Regions from separate parts of the Homo sapiens genome. Here region 2 is linked to region 1. Evidence: fine-mapped expression QTL. Tissue or cell type: whole blood. Region 1 holds a variant in brackets; the other region holds the start of a gene. All regions are shown on one strand. Distances are between the middles of the regions.

Evidence for each region. PIP is the estimated chance that this variant, and not a neighbour inherited with it, causes the effect.
Region 2: GEMIN4 starts here. The variant in region 1 is fine-mapped to the expression of GEMIN4 in whole blood (TOPMed, PIP above 0.99).

Annotation. Positions count from the first base shown.
Region 1 is chr17:684,325-692,324 of GRCh38, reverse strand. The region is part of intron 4 of VPS53 (VPS53 subunit of GARP complex); the gene reads left to right. Among named protein-coding and RNA genes, the nearest start is that of VPS53, 27 kb to the left of the region's middle. The variant C/T (reference allele first, on the strand shown) is at 4,487.
Region 2 is chr17:748,068-756,067 of GRCh38, reverse strand. It overlaps GEMIN4 (gem nuclear organelle associated protein 4), which reads left to right and starts at 3,804. Exons shown (of 2, transcript NM_015721.3): 1 at 3,804-3,935. The coding sequence starts at 3,926. It also overlaps the pseudogene DBIL5P. RefSeq lists silencers at 3,425-3,684, 3,865-4,284 and an enhancer at 4,465-4,524.

The DNA.
Region 1 (8,000 bases):
ACGTTTAAAACTTTGTGGATGAGTCAATTCAACAAGTACATGATGTGGTATGCTATGAAATTTTTGCAGCTTCCCAAGAATTAAAATGGATGGCTTGAACGTAGGTGAAAGAGAGGTGAATAGAGGGGCGGGTTAGAGGAAGAAAAAGCCGGCAGTGGGAAGTTTCAAGAGTGGCCAACGTTGACCGGTCGTCAGTAAGCTCTCAGACTCACAGGAGAGGATCAGCCACCGAGTTTCTGTCTCTTCAATGGAGCCTGGCTGCAATGTAGCCATTTCTTTGATCAGAACAAGAGTAAGGTTTGGGAGGAGAAGAGAATTATTACAAGTCGTCCCCACTTACCTGTGGGGGATACATTCCAAGACCCCCAGTGGATGCCTGAAACCCAGAGAGTAGCAAACCCTATATATGCCGTATTTTTTCCTATGTATACATACCTGTGATAAACTTTAGCATGCAAATTAGGCACAGTAAGAGATTCACCACAATAACTAAAAATAAAATAGCACAATTATGACAGTATGCCAGCATCACTCCTCTTGTGATTTGGAGCTGTATGTAATAGCCGAGATGGCTGCTAAGTGACTAATAGGTGCTGTATTCAGCATGGATATACTGGGTGAAGGAATGATTCGTGACCTGGTCAGGACAGAATTGGGTGGTGCAAGATTTTATCACACTACTCAGAATGGCGCATAATTTAAAATTTACTAATTGTCTGTTTCTGGAATTTTCCATGTAATATTTTTGGACCACAGTCAACTACAGGTGGCTAAAACCTCAGAAAGTGAACTGCTGATAAGGAGGGGGTGCTGTATTGCTCACTCCTTCGCTTTGGAAGAAGGATTAGGTAATTGTAGTACAATCTTCCACCCAGTTCAGGAGTCCTTTGTATTACATCTCTGACGTTTCATTATCTTGCAGAAGCTTGGCTACTTTCAGTGATGGGGAGCTTGCTACTTTGTTGGTCCACAGGACAGACTAGTTCAGTTTTATAGCTTTAGTTGTGAGAAACTCCTTTCTTAGACTGAACTGAAACAGTGAAATAGACTTCATTGTAACTTCTTGTTGATCTTAGTTCTGCCAGCTGGATGGGTGTAAGCCTAATCCCTTTTCCTTACTACAGCTTCTGAAATTGAAAATGGATATTATGTTCCTAAGTGTTCCCTTTTCTAGGCTAACCATTCTTAGTTTCTTCATCTTTATAATGCAATTTCCAGACCCTTTATCATCCTTGCTCTTGATAGCTGTTTGTCAGCATCCCTCTTAAAATGTGGTTCCCAGGAGTGGACATGCTGTGTCAACATATACACTGAGACAGTTGACCTCTTTGTTCTGGGCCGAGCTCATTAACTTAGGGACTGGGGGTCCAGAGTGTCTGTCAAGTCCCTGAAATTAACTGTAAATTTTTGTATGTCTAGACATATTTATGGGAGGAAAACTTATTGATTTTTCTAGATTTTCTAAGGAGTCTGTGACTCTTCAAAACTTAAGGGCCACCGATTTTAGACACTGTTCTTCCATTACCTTGGATTTGCTGAGATTTTTGATTGTAGACATTGTTCTTCCATTACCTTGGATTTGCTGAGATTTTTTATTTTAGACACTATTCTTCCATTACCTTGGATTTGCTGAGATTTTTGGCAGCCGTATTACATGGTTGGCTTCTACTGAGTTGGCAGTCACCTGAAACCCCCAGGTCAAGAGTCGCAAACAGATGTCCGCAGAGCTGGGAAAGTAACCTAAGCGGCGTAAGCAGGCTGGTGTGTGTCCACATGCATCCACCAGGTCCTAAGGGGATAGTCACAAGTGAATTCTAATCAGCTGTTGTCACGTCTGAACGCAGACCTGGAATTGCCAGATCTATCAGTTTTTCAAGAGCAGCCGGAAATCCGGATTTTCATGTAACTCTCACAATTTTTAACTATTGGCTTAGTGTTTTTCACAAACACTGCAAAGGGCAAACAAAACACATCTGTGGGCCAGTACTGTCCCAGGTCTTTCTTCATATGACTTTCATTTAAACTTTCTCCACCTCTGTTTGTGCAAGAGAGTCTTTGAAATTGTCAGACCGTGTGTGTCTCAGCTTTCGTTTCATCCCACTAGTTCTGCTCGATTGTTTATCCCATCAAGATCTTTGGGAGCCTTGATGACCTCCCCACTTTATCATTAGCAGATTTGCCAGACATGCCTTCTGTGTCTTCATTCAAGTTGTAGATGAAAAGGCAGAATGGAGTGGATTCAGAGCCGTGTGACGTGCCGTCAGAGGCTTCCTGTTCTTCCTCCTCACTTCAGCGCAAAGTGCCAGACCCAAAAAACAGGATTTCTACCTGTCTGTGTGTGTCGTCCGGGGCTGTTTCTTCATCTTCCCATGTCTTGATTTTCACCAAAAAAGGAGGCTGTTAATACTTGCCTTCTTCACTTTTACATAGAGATATCATAAAGATTATGAACTAAAGCAGCAAAGTACATTGCCTTCCAAGGAGAAAGTGTTCCTTGCTTTTCTTCCTCAAAATTAGCATATTATGCAATTCAAGCATTAGAACGAAAATAGGCCGGGCTTGGTAGCTTACGCCTGTAATCCCAACACTTTGGGAGGCGGAGGTGGGCGGATCGCCTGAGATCAGGAGTTTAAGACCAGCCTGGCCAACATGGGGAAACCTGGGCTTTACTAAAAATACAAAAATTAGCCAGATGCAGTGGTGCGTGCCTGTAGTCCCAGCTACTCACGAGGCTGAGGCTGGAGAATCACTTGAACCTAGGAAGTGGAGGTTGCAGTGAGCTGAGATGGTGCCACTGCACTCCAGCCTTGGTGACAGAGTGAGACTCCATCTCAAAAAAAAAAAAAAAAAAAAAAAAAAATTAGTCCAGCATGGTGGCACAAACCTATAGTCTTGGCTACTCAGGAGTTTGAGGTAGGAGGATTGCGTGAGCCCAGGGGTTTGAGGTTACAGCAGTCTATGATGGCACCTCTACACTGCAGCCTGGGGACCCTGTCTCAAGTGAAAAGAACAAAAATAACTGCTCTCCAAGACTGACTTCCCAGCATGGCATTGATCTTCATTATGTGGGATTTTGAATTTGTCATTGTCAGCTCACTAGAAGGAGACTTTATATTCTTATCCTCCCTCACTTTAAATTGATCCTTTCTCTCATCCTCTCTTGGGAGGAAAATGAAGCCCATTGATTGATAAAAATTGAAGAAAGTAATTGGTATTAGTATTAAAGGGACCACAAATAGTTTGGAAAAAAATGGCAATTGCTACTTGCTTCTTCCTACTAAAACATACCACAGCTAAAGCGACTGAGCTTTTAGAGTATGGCCTCGAAGTTTCCCATTAGTGGCCAAGATTGGCTGGACATTTTTTGTTTCTTTTCTGTTATTATTTTTTGCGTTGTACTTTTCAGCATGTCTGCAAATAACACTAAACTTCAGGAATTGCTGAGGTTTGGACATGACCTGGGAGTGCCCTGAACACCGTGATCTGTGGGGCAGCCCTGGAGTCGGGTTGTTAGATCAGCCTTTTGTAGGGGCAGAGTTTTGATTCGGGCTCACAGTCATTTCCCAACCAGGATTTCTTACGTCTAGTGCAGAGGTCAAGGTTGGCTTGCCTTTGTCAAGTTGAATCCGGTGACTGTTCATTTTGCCTGCTTCTAGAGTGCTACTGGTTGTAGTTGAGGCGGGGCGGGCGACTGTTCATTTTGCCTGCTTCTAGAGTGCTACTGGTTGTAGTTGAGGCGGGGACTCATAAAATGTCCGTTAACTGTTTAACAATGTAGTGCAACTGGGTTTGGCCTCACTACCATTCTTCATCCTGTTTATTGCACACAAGCCTTGTGTATTAGTCCGTTCTCACACTGCTATGAAGAAATACCTTAGACGGGGTAATTTATAAAGGAAAGAGGTTTAATTGACTCACATTTCTGCAGGGCTGGGGATGCCTCAGGAAACTTACAATCATGGTGGAAAGGGAAGCAAACCCATCCTTCTTCACAAGGTGGCAGGAGAGAGGAAGAATGAGAGCTGAGCGAAGGGGGAAGCCTCTTACAAAACCATCAGATCTTGTGAGAACTTACTATCACGTGAATAGAATGGGAGAAACCACCCCGTGGTTCAGTGACTTCCCACCAGGTCCCTCCTATGACATGTAGGGATTTGGGTGGGGACACAGCCAAATCATATCACCTTGATAGCGCTTTTTTGGCAGGGAGACATGTCTGCGGCATATTTGGAACACTTTGCCACGTATCCTCTAAAATCCCTCATTTTTAGAAAAGCTATAAGGAATCCAAATAGCTATCTTCTCTCCTCTATGTACAGTGAAGGACTGGGCATTTTATTTCAATTCTCTAAGGATTGGTGTAGTTAGATATCTTCAGTGATGTAACATTGGATGGCATCTTGGTAAAGTGAAAAAAACTTGAGCTTTGAATTTAAATTTTGTCTCTGCTGTTATCTGTGTGACCTTGGACAAGATATTTAACTTT[C/T]CATCTGTGACATGGAGATAATAATACGTACCTCAGGGTTAGGGGGGATTAGAATTAATATACTTTATTTTATTTATCCACTTATTTATTTATTTGTTTTTGAGACAGGGTCTTACTTTGTTGCCCAGGCTAGAGTGGAGTGGTGCAATCACAGCTCGCTGCGCCCTCAACCTCGTGGGCTCAAGTGATCCTCTCACTTCAGCGTCCCGAGTAGCTGGGACCACAGGCACATGCCACCATGCGCATCTTTTTTTTTTTTTTTTTGAGACTGAGTCTTGCTCTCTCTCCAGGCTGGAGTGCATTGGTGCGATCTTGGCTCACTGCAGCTTCTGCCTCCTGGGTTCAAGCAATTCCCCTGCCTCAGCCTCCTGAGTAGCTGGGACTACAGGCATGTGCCACCACGCCCGGCTAATTTTCTGTATTTTAGTGGAGATGGGGTTTCCCCATGTTGGCCAGGATGGTCTCGATCTTCTGACCTCATGATCTGCGTGCCTCAGCCTCCCAAAGTGCTGGGATTACAGGTATGAGCCACCGCACCTGGCTTTTTTTTTTTGAGCTGGAGTCTTGCTGTGTCACCCAGGCTGGAGTGCCGTGTTACGATCTCTGCTCACTGCAACCTCCGTCTCCTGGGTTCAAGTGATTCTCCCTGCCTCAGCCTCCCAAGTAGCTGAGATTACAGGCGACCACCACCACGCCTGGCTAGTTTTTATATTTTTGGTAGAGACAGGGTTTCACCATGTTGGCCAGGCTGGTCTTGAACTTCTGATCTCAGGTGATCTGCCCACCTTGGCCTCTCAAAGTGCTGGGATTACAGGCGTGAGCCACTGCGCCCAGCTAATGTAATTTTTAAGTATTGTGTAGATGAGGTCTCGCTATGTTGCCCAGGCTAGTCTCAAACTCCTGGCCTCAAGCAATCCTTCTGCCTCAGCCTCCTAAAGTGCTGGGATTACAGGCATGAGCCACCACATCTGGCCTAGAATAAATGTATTTTAAAACACCTTTTTTGCACAATGTTGGGCTCACTCATGTTTAGTAAATGGCAGGAACACCAGTGCTGCTGATACACAGTCCACTGGAATTTCAGTTTTCCTAGTTCCGTGCATCCAGGTATTTGTCGAGTTCCTGTGGCTTTTCCGTCAGCTCCATCAGCTCCTCTCCAGCCCCACTGCTGTGCTTTAAAGCAACTCCAGGTTTACTTGTTCTGAATTATCCCAGGCCCCTTACTGCCTTCAGCGTGCTGTTCTCTGTGAATAAAAATGGCGGCACAGCTTACCTATGGTCCAGAATATCTGCTGTGGCAACAGTGGTGGTCAAAGGTTCATTTCTCTTGTCCTGTCTTCAAGACCTCCATTAGATGTTTGCCTGGCGTGACATGCAATATCACCCTATAGTTAAAATAAACATTCCACTTGACAACAGAATTTATTATTTGTATTGTTTTTGAAATTTGAGACTGCAGATAGATTTTTTTTCATTTCTAGTTTTTATAACTTCCAAATTCTTCTTTTTTTTCTTCTTAGAGACAGGGTCTCACTCTGTCATTCAGGCTGGAATGTAATGGCAGGATCGTAGCTCACTCTAGCCTTGAACTCCTGGGCTCACGTGATCCTTCCACCTCAGCCTCCCAAGTAGCTAGGACTACAGGTGCACACCACTATGCCTGACTGTTTTAAAACACTTTTTGTAGAGATGGAATCTCACTGTGTTGCCCAGGCTGGTTTAGAACTCCTGGCTTCAGGTGATCCTCCCACCTACGCTTCCCAGAGTGCTGGAATTACAGGCATGAGCCACTGCAACCAGCCAATTCTCTTCTCTCTCTGTTTTTTTTTTTAGAGACAGGGTCTCGCTCCAGGGTCATCCAGGCTGGAGTGTGGCGTGCATAGCTCACTGTCTCAAACTCCTGGCCTCAAACGATCCTCCCACCTCAGACTTCCAAGTAGGTAGGACTACAAGTGCATGTCACCATGTCTGGCTAATTTTTTAATTTAAAAAGTTTTTTTTTGTAGTGATGGGGTGTTCCTTTATTGCTCTGGCTGGTCTTGGACTCCTTACCTCAAGCGATCTTCCTGCCTCAGCCTCCTGAGTGGCTGGAATTACAGGTGCAAGCCACCACACCTGTTTCCAGATTTTTCTCAATCATACACATGCTTCTTAACTTGCAATGAAGAATAAGTTCTTATTCTGATAAACCCATCGTAAGTTGAAAATATCCTAAGTTGAAAATTTATTAATACATGTAATTTACTGAACATCATAGCTTAGCCTACCGTGCCTTAAATTTATTTGCTCAGAACACTTACATTAGGCTACAGTCAGGCAAATCATCTAACACCGAGCCTATTTTATACTAAAGTGTTGAATAGCTCATGTGATCTGTTGAATACTGTACAGAAAGTGAAAAACAGAGTGGTTGTATGGGTACCCAAAGTATGGTTTCTACAGAATGTTTCTCACCTTTGCACCATCGTGTAGTAAGAAAATTCTGTGTTGAACCATCCCAAGTTGAGGGCCGTTGGTATATTATTTTAGAAGAAAAGTATTTTTGGATGCCGTATTGTAATGAACAGAAGGAACTGACACCTGGGTCACTGCAGGGAGCCTTTGCTGCCTGTTCAACACCGGTTTCCAGACCCAGGCTCTTGGAACTGCAGTCTTCCCTTCCTGGCTCTCAGACTCAAAGCTGCCCGCTTTCTCCACTCCAGCTGTTTGTGTTGAGTACATCTGTCTTTTTGTTTTCTCTGTCTCTCATTGCATCTCTAAAGCAAGGCAGTTTTTACGCCAAGATCATCAGGACTTTTACAGGTATTGGGATCTGTTTTCCTTTATTAGTCTTTTTTTTTCCTTTTTTTGGAAACAGAATCTAGCTCTTGTTGCCCAGGCTGGAGTGCAGTGGCGCGATCTCGGCCCACGGCAACCTCCGCCTCCTAGGTTCAAGTGATTCTCCTGCCTCAATCTCTCGAGTCGCTGGGATTACAGGCGTGAGCCACCATGCCTGGCTAATTTTTTGTATTCTTTAGTAGGGACGGGGTTTAATTATGTTGGCCAGGCTGGTCTCGAACTCCTGACCTCGGTGATTCACTCGCCTCGGCCTCCCAAAATGCTGGGATTACAGGTGTGAGCCACCGCGCCCGGCCAACTTGTTGATTTAAGAAAAGAAAAAAAGGAAATCTCTGGGACTTTGATTGGGATTGCGTTGAGTCTATAGATCAATTGAAGGAGAATTGACATCTTTACAATATTAAATCTTCCAATCTATGAACATGGAATATTTCTTCATATATTTAGGTCTTTAGTTTCTCTCAACAGTGTGTTTTAGTTTTTAGTATATAGATCTTGCTCATAGTTTGCTAGATTTATACTAAATATTTTGTGGTTTTTGGTATGATTATAAATGGTATCTCTTAAAATTTAAATTTCCAGTTGTCTCTTGCTAGTTGTGGAAATGTAATTGATTTTTATTTATTGACCTTATATTGTGCAGCTTTGCTGAACTCACTTATTAGTTTCAGGAATT
Region 2 (8,000 bases), 64 kb before region 1:
TTGCTTTGCTAAGAATCCTTTGTTCGAGTGTTCTATTTCCTTAGGATTTTGAGCATTATTCCTAACAAGTATTTAAAAGGGAAAGAGCAGGAAGGGAGGGAAGAGGGAAAGGAAAAATACAGGAGGGTAGGTAGGGAGATAAGTGGTTACATTCTTATTAGGCTTTGATCAGCGCTCACCAAATCTACATGTCACAGTGAAAGGAGGGGGTAGAGGAACAGTCAGTTTTGCATTCAGCTCAGTAAATCTACATTTAGCACTCACCAAATCTACATGTTACAGTGAAAGGAGCAGGCAGAGGAACAGTCAGTTTTGCATTCAGCTCAGTAAATCTACATTTAGTGCTCACCAAATCTACATGTTACAGTGAAAGGAGCGGGCAGAGGAACAGTTACGCATTCAGCTCAGTAAGTCTACATTTAGCACTCACCAAATCTACATGTTACAGTGAAAGGAGCAGGCAGAGGAACAGTCAGTTTTGCATTCAGCTCAGTAAATCTACATTTAGCGCTCACCAACTCTACATGTTACAGTGAAAGGAGCGGGCAGAGGAACACTCAGTTATGCATTCAGCTCAGTAAATCTACATTTAGTGCTCACCAAATCTACATGTTACAGTGAAAGGAGCGGGCAGACGAACAGTCAGTTATGCATTCAGCTCAGTAAATCTACATTTAGCGCTCACCAAATCTACATGTTACAGTGAAAGGAGCGGGCAGAGGAACAGTTATGCATTCAGCTCAGTAAATCTACATTTACTGCTCACCAAATCTATATGTTACAGTGAAAGCAGCAGGCAGAGGAACAGTTATGCATTCAGCTCAGTACATCTATGTTTTGTCTCGGCTGGTGAGGGATGGTTTCTGGTGTTGTCTTTGTCCCTTACCTATGAAGATAAGCTGTTAATTTATATTGTCAGGTGAGGGAGACCACCTGGGGAGATATGTGGCCTTCTGTCTTGTAGCTTATCTGTTTAGGAACAAAAGGAAGTTTTTTGCATATTCCATGACTCAATTTCCAAGCTTAACTTTTCCTTTTCGCTTAGTGAATTTGGTCCCAAGATTTTATTTTCCTTTCACAGTATACCCCATGCCCATCAATCCCATTCCCCCTGCATCCTATAGGTAACCTCTTCTTAAGCAAATACAAATAGATAAATCCTTATTTTCTGTTTTTTTTTTTAAAACTTTATTTTACTGTTACTTTCTGCTGTCCTAATTATGGCACATTTTTACTTTCTAGGTTCTGTGATTTACAGAGTGGTCTGGCTATGTGGACAGCTTCTAAATTGTCACCACATTTTGGAGCAAGATGTATTATTTTTACAATTAATTTACATTTAACATGAATCATGATCCTAAGTGCATCAGAATGTCTTCATAACATTCGCCAAAGAAGAGAGGGCAGCACTGCTGTTCTACAGTGTGGCTCTCACCTGGTCCACAGTTACCAGAAATAGTTCTTTCGTTGCTGTGATGTCCTGGGTGGGCTTCATTCTTTAGTAATGTACTTTGTCTACAGCAACTTCCTGCAACTATGTGAACAGATCTTGAAGACACACAGTGAGGTTTGGTTTCCTTTGTCCTCTTAAGTCTTTATGGTTGTTGCTTCTATTGTTTATTGGTCCCAGTGAGAACTGCAGCTGACCTGATGTCATGATCTGTGAAGATAGTTTCTATTAAAGAAGAAGTACCAGGAAATCCCATATGCCACCGTAGACCTGCCTTTCTGGATACCATTTACTACTCCATACTCCAGCCGCCATGCACAATGGTTGTGTATGAGGCTCCTGTGATCATTAACAGGAGTAGAAGCTGGGCTCAGACACTCTGGCACTTGCATAGGTCAAGGGGTGTGTTGTGCTCTTGCAACAAATCCCACATAGACATCCATATGCATATTGTCCCACCGTCCCCTAAGCAGAAACCAGGGTTAAGTACAGAATAGTCCCGGGAACATTTTGGTTGCCCGGCCTTAGGTGAGCCTTTCTGGGGCTGGGATTTTGACACCATCTGCTCCATTGTTTCTAAACTGCTGTGTTCTGGCGCATCAATTGTTTCATCACATTATCATCACGGAAAGCTTGGTCTCCCTCAAAACATGAACCGGGTAGGCCCTGTGTTCCAGTGGGGGCTTTTGGACTTGACTTTAGTGTTTAGGAGGACAGAGTCCCTCTCCCCTCTGTGGTGCTGGGGTATTAGTAAATCAGCCTTGAAGAGATAAGGGGCTGGGGCCTCAACCTCCCAAGAGGCTGTCACTGGAGAATGGTCTCCTGCCCTCAGATCTTGGGCATTTCCACAGCACACTGTCCCCCTCGTCCTTCCAAATACCTACATACGCTCTTGTAATAGGAGAGCTGGGAACTCCACCCAAAACCATACAAAAAGTTAGTCTGTGTATTTGGACGCCTCCCCAGCACTCAGTCACCGAGTTTCTCCTTTCCAACAGCAGTCACTCTCATGCAGTTTAAGTGATTTATTGATGTCTCGGCTAAGCTTGCGACAGTTTCAGGACATTTCAGCCATCAAGGTCTAAGAAGCCCTTTCCATTCCCGAGGAGCCCTCAGCCAGCCTCCTTCTTCCTCATCTCCTCACTCTGGCCGCGTAGCCCCTCATGGCGTCCATCTTGGACGCCCCTTTGTTCGCGCTCCACGCCCCCCACTTCCTTCTTCGTCAGCTCCTCCACTTTGGCCGCGTAGCCCCTCATGGCGTCCATCTTGGACGCCCCTTTGTTCGCGCTCCACGCCCCCCACTTCCTTCTTCGTCAGCTCCTCCACTTTGGCCGCGTAGCCCCTCATGGCGTCCATCTTGGACGCCCCTTTGTTCGCGCTCCACGCCCCCCACTTCCTTCTTCGTCAGCTCCTCCACTTTGGCCGCGTAGCCCCTCATGGCGTCCATCTTGCACGCCCCTTTGTTCGCGCTCCACGCCCCCCACTTCCTTCTTCGTCAGCTCCTCCACTTTGGCCGCGTAGCCCCTCATGGCGTCCATCTTGGACGCCCCTTTTTTCGCGCTCCAAGCCTCCCACTTGGCCCTGGCTCTCACGTCTGAGGCCGGAGGGCCGGGGATGTCGCAGTCGCCCTGGGTGGCCTGTTTGTACAAGCCGTAGACCAGCAGCTTCTCCTGATCGCTCACGGGACCCTTCAGCTGCTTGAGGGCCGCGCAGCTCGAACTCCACTTGGCACATGGGGTGGTGGAGGCGGTCCCTGGTGCTAGAAGCTGGAGGTGGAGAGTTGGAGTGGCTGTTACTACTCGATCTCAGGGGGAGGAGACAGGCACGCGATGTTTGTGTTTTGTCAAGCACAGATTGCAAGCTCGGGGTCCAGCGTAAACCCCACCATGTTTGGGCTCACACGGCGCATTTTCTGGGGAGGACCAGCCGTCAAAAAGCGTCTAGGATCCGGAACGCTGCTGTCTGGAGGGGGCGGCGCGGCAGGAGCGCGTTGAGGGACTGTATGTGGCGCGAGCTGGGCGGGTGGGAGTGGAAGCCTCGCGTGGTGCGGCCGCGCTGGGTGGTGGGCGTCCCGGGGGAGGCGCTCGGTGGGGGTGAACTGTGTGCGGGGCACGCCCGGGGTTACCGGGTGAGGGTGAATGCGGGGCCGGGGAATCATGAGCCCGACCCGCTGGGACCCCGGAAGAGGGGCCGGGCAGGGGACGGTGCGGAGGGGTCTAGTGAGCGACGTCCGGGTACCTGAGGGCTGGTGGGAGGGCTCTGCCGGAAGGCGGCGCTGTGCGCTTGGCGCGCTCGTTCGTGAGGACTGCGCGTGCGCGGCGGAGGCTGTGGGCGGGGCCGGGCGGAGGTTGTGAGCAGGCCTAAGCGCGGCCGCCGTGGCTCCTGCGTCTCCCATCGTGCCGTGCGTCCCGCGCCGCGTTCGAGTTCTCGGAGGGGAGGGGGCGTTAGCCCCGCGCAGCCGCCGGCGTCGCCGCCATGGACCTAGGTGGGTGCCGCGGCTCCCCGGCCCCGGGCTGCGTCCAGCAATGCGCCACCAGAGCGGTGCTGCCCCGTCGCGTCTCCTCCTGTCGCGCACGCTCGCGCGGGCCCGGACCGAAACGTCCCCCGCGTCGGGGCGGGTCTAGGGGTCCCGGGGTGGCCTTGGCGGGGGGTGGTCCGGGTCCCGCCGCGCGTTGGGCCGCGTCTTGCCGCCTCCGGCCCCCTGCGCTTGAAAACACGGAGCAGACGTGAAGTTAGAGCCCTTGGAAGCGCCCGGGGCTCGCGCACGTGCTTTGGGAAACGGGCTCCCTCCGAGCACCCCTGGGCGCCCCGACGGCCTCATTTCCTGAACGGCAGCTGCGTTCTTGAGCAAGTGTCTTAACGCTCCAAGTGTCTTACGCTCATGACGTTTCCTCATCGACAGAGCGGGGAGAATGGAAGTGTGTCTCCCCACTGAGTTTTGGGCGACTTTGCATTGAGATCGCCGAGGTACAGTGTCCCTTGTGGGGTTGCGCGGGTCACACCCGCGGTGGGGGCGGCTGCGCTCCTGAGGTATCACTTTGTGAACCTGCGTGCGTCCGGATTCAGAATCTTACAGGCAAGGTCTGGGAGGGAGCCCATAGGAACTAGATGCTCCCTGCTAAATCTTGGCACACGCTGCTAAGACCAGGAGGCTGTTCTGGGAGAGCTGGGGGTGAGGCACCCCGAGATGTGTCAGCAGTAGTAGGCTGGGGGGAAATGGTCTGGTCCCCGCCCCCAGACAGCTTTTCAGGAGCGGAATGGCAGAGCTCTAAGGGCTTGGAGCCCCTCAGCCGTAATTGCTTCCCAGCCCCACCACATTCAGGCTGGGACACCCTCAGCAAATCGTTTCTGCGCCTCAGTGTCCTTATCTCTAGAGCAGGAATACTAGTCCTCAAAAGGTGATTGTGAATAGAAGAGATCTTACCTGTGTACCACCTAGCACAGTGTCTGGCATGGAGTAGGTGCTTAATAAACCTAAGAAGCGGGCTGTGGCAAGCACTAGTTAACCATCCATGATAGAGTACCGGAGTATTTTCCAGCTAGTAACCGCCCTGGGACTTACTACTTCAAACTGTGCGTACTTAATGCGCCTGGAAGGCAGGTGTTTAGGGCCAAACATCTGCTCAACTAAGCCAATAATGCAATAAAATTAAATTTACAGCGTCAGGAGGGACTATATTTTGGGACCCTGGGAGAGCCTCCTGAGCCAGAAAGAAGGGCGGTAACCCCCAGGGAGGTCCCCTTCGCAGCGTAACCCTCCCTGGGAGTCGGTCTCAGCCACTGTGAGATGAGATGGATTGCCTCCACAAGTGGGTTACATAGTGCTGAGCCCTTGGCCTGCTGCCGCTCCCATAAATGGTGGGAGGGGTAAGATGGTCCTTAGTCTCCTGGAGTCAGTGTTTTCTCTGCTGGTGTCTGGCCTGTGAAAATGGGGAATATGAGCTCTTGGGGGCATGACAGACTGAGGAAGGAGTAGCATCTCTCACTCCTGGGAAAGGGGAGATGACTCAGGAATGAGGAATAGGGAGCAGTGTTTGCACCCTCGTTTTAGTTTCTGGGCCAAAGGAAACATACCTGATAAAGACCTACATCCTTTGATGTTTCTGAGCTGGGGGAGGCAAAGAATAGTGACAAGATTCTGGTCTTGCCAACCATGAAAAGGTTTGGGGAAACCAACATTTACTGAGCACCTAATTAGACTCTGTAACTGGATTCTTACTGTAGCTCTATCTCATTTATCCATCATAGCGTCCCGGGGAGATGGGGTCAGGAGATAGCAGTGCCAACCCACTAGCAAGGGCTTGACTGGTATATATCACATGATCCCCAAAGGCATAACATGAAGTCTGTATTATCCCCACATATGCAGAAGGAAGGCTTGGAGAAGCAATCTGACCAAGATCACATCCCTTTTTTTTTTTCGGAGATGGAGGGGGAGTCTCACTGTGTTACCCCAGCTAGTCTTGAACTCCTGGCCTCAGGGATCCACCTGCCTCAGCCCCCCAAGTAGCTGGGATTACAAGTGCTAGCCACTGAACCTGGCCAGAATCACATCATTTTTAAATGGCTGAACTAGGATTTAAACCCATGTCTGATTAAACATCCCAAGATGTTTTCCATGGTAAGTCTGTGTCAATCGTTAGTTCCCTGAAGGAAGGCTTAATCTAGCACAGTATTTTCTGTATCTACTCCCTGGTTTCTCCCACAGAGCTAGGGCCATGAGTACCTTGTTTTTGACTGGAAGGAGCTGTGGGGTGGACCGTTTCCCTGAAAGCTAGAAGAATGTTTGAAGCCTGTTCCCAAGGCAAGTTTATAAAGAGTGAAGGCAGGGCTTGTCTGATTCCTTCTGTGCCCATTGCTCTGTGGCTATGTGATTGCTCTGTGCCCATTACCCTGTGGCTGTGTGACTGCTGCTGTGCCCGTTACCCTGTGGCTGCGTGATTGCTGCTGTGCCCATTACCCTGTGGCTGTGTGATTGCTCTGTGCCCATTATCCTGTGGCCGTGTGATCGCTCTGTGCCCATTACCCTGTAGCCGTGTGATTGCTGCTGTGCCCATTACCTTGTGGCTGTGTGATTGCTGCTGTGCCCATTATCCTGTGGCTGTGTGATTGCTCTGTGCCCATTATCCTGTGGCTGTGTGATTGCTCTGTGCCCATTATCCTGTAGCCGTGTGATTGCTTCTGTGCCCATTACCCTGTGGCTGTGTGATTGCTGCTGTGCCCATTATCCTGTGGCCGTGTGATTGCTGCTGTGCCCATTACCCTGTGGCCGTGTGATTGCTCTGTGCCCATTACCCTGTGGCCGTGTGACTGCTGCTGTGCCCATTACCCTGTGGCCGTGTGATTGCTGCTGTGCCCATTACCCTGTGGCCGTGTGATTGCTCTGTGCCCATTATCCTGTGGCCGTGTGATTGCTCTGTGCCCATTACCCTGTGGCCGTGTGATTGCTCTGTGCCCATTACCCTGTGGCCGTGTGATTGCTCTGTGCCCATTATCCTGTGGCCGTGTGATTGCTCTGTGCCCATTATCCTGTGGCCGTGTGATTGCTCTGTGCCCATTATCCTGTGGCCGTGTGATTGCTCTGTGCCCATTACCCTGTGGCCGTGTGATTGCTGCTGTGCCCATTACCCTGTGGCCGTGTGATTGCTCTGTGCCCATTATCCTGTGGCCGTGTGATTGCTCTGTGCCCATTATCCTGTGGCTGTGTGATTGCTCTGTGCCCATTATCCTGTAGCCGTGTGATTGCTTCTGTGCCCATTACCCTGTGGCTGTGTGATTGCTGCTGTGCCCATTATCCTGTGGCTGTGTGATTGCTGCTGTGCCCATTACCCTGTGGCTGTGTGATTGCTCTGTGCCCATTACCCTGTGGCTGTGTGATTGCTCTGTGCCCATTATCCTGTGGCCGTGTGATTGCTGCTGTGCCTGTTACCCTGTGGCTGTGTGATTGCTCTGTGCCCATTACCCTGTGGCTATGCTCCCTTCATCTGTCATGAGAAGCTCAGCTGTCATGTCCTGTGGTACATGCTCAGTGGCCCCTGTAGTTTGTACTGTCCTCCTATTTCTAAACCCCTCTCCCCACATCCTCTGCTGGCCCAGCCTTTGCTGGAGGGTCTCGCCTCAGCAGCCCAGCTTTTTCTTTTCACACACTTTTCCTGAAGGATCTCATTCACCGTCTTGGTTCCGGTGATCCCCTCTGGGCAGATACCTCTCAGAATCACATTTCCCAGCTTACTTCCCTCCTGAACTTCCACCTGGCATTTCCGTTGCTGGAGGACATCTGTACCTTGATGGCCAAAGCTGAACTCATCTTTCCTCACACCTGCTCTGATTCTCCTCCATTCCCTGTATGTGATGTCACCTGGTGGCCTCCCAGTTCCCAGGCTGGAGAGCTCGGAAGCCATTCTGGATTCCTCGGCCAAGTCCTTCTGACTCCAGCTGTGCAGTGGCTCTTGTAGTCATCCCTTCTCCCCGTCCGCTGATGTCCTTTAAAACCCTTGTCATCTCAAACCATGACAGCCTACTAACAGCAGTGGCCATCTGGAAACATTTT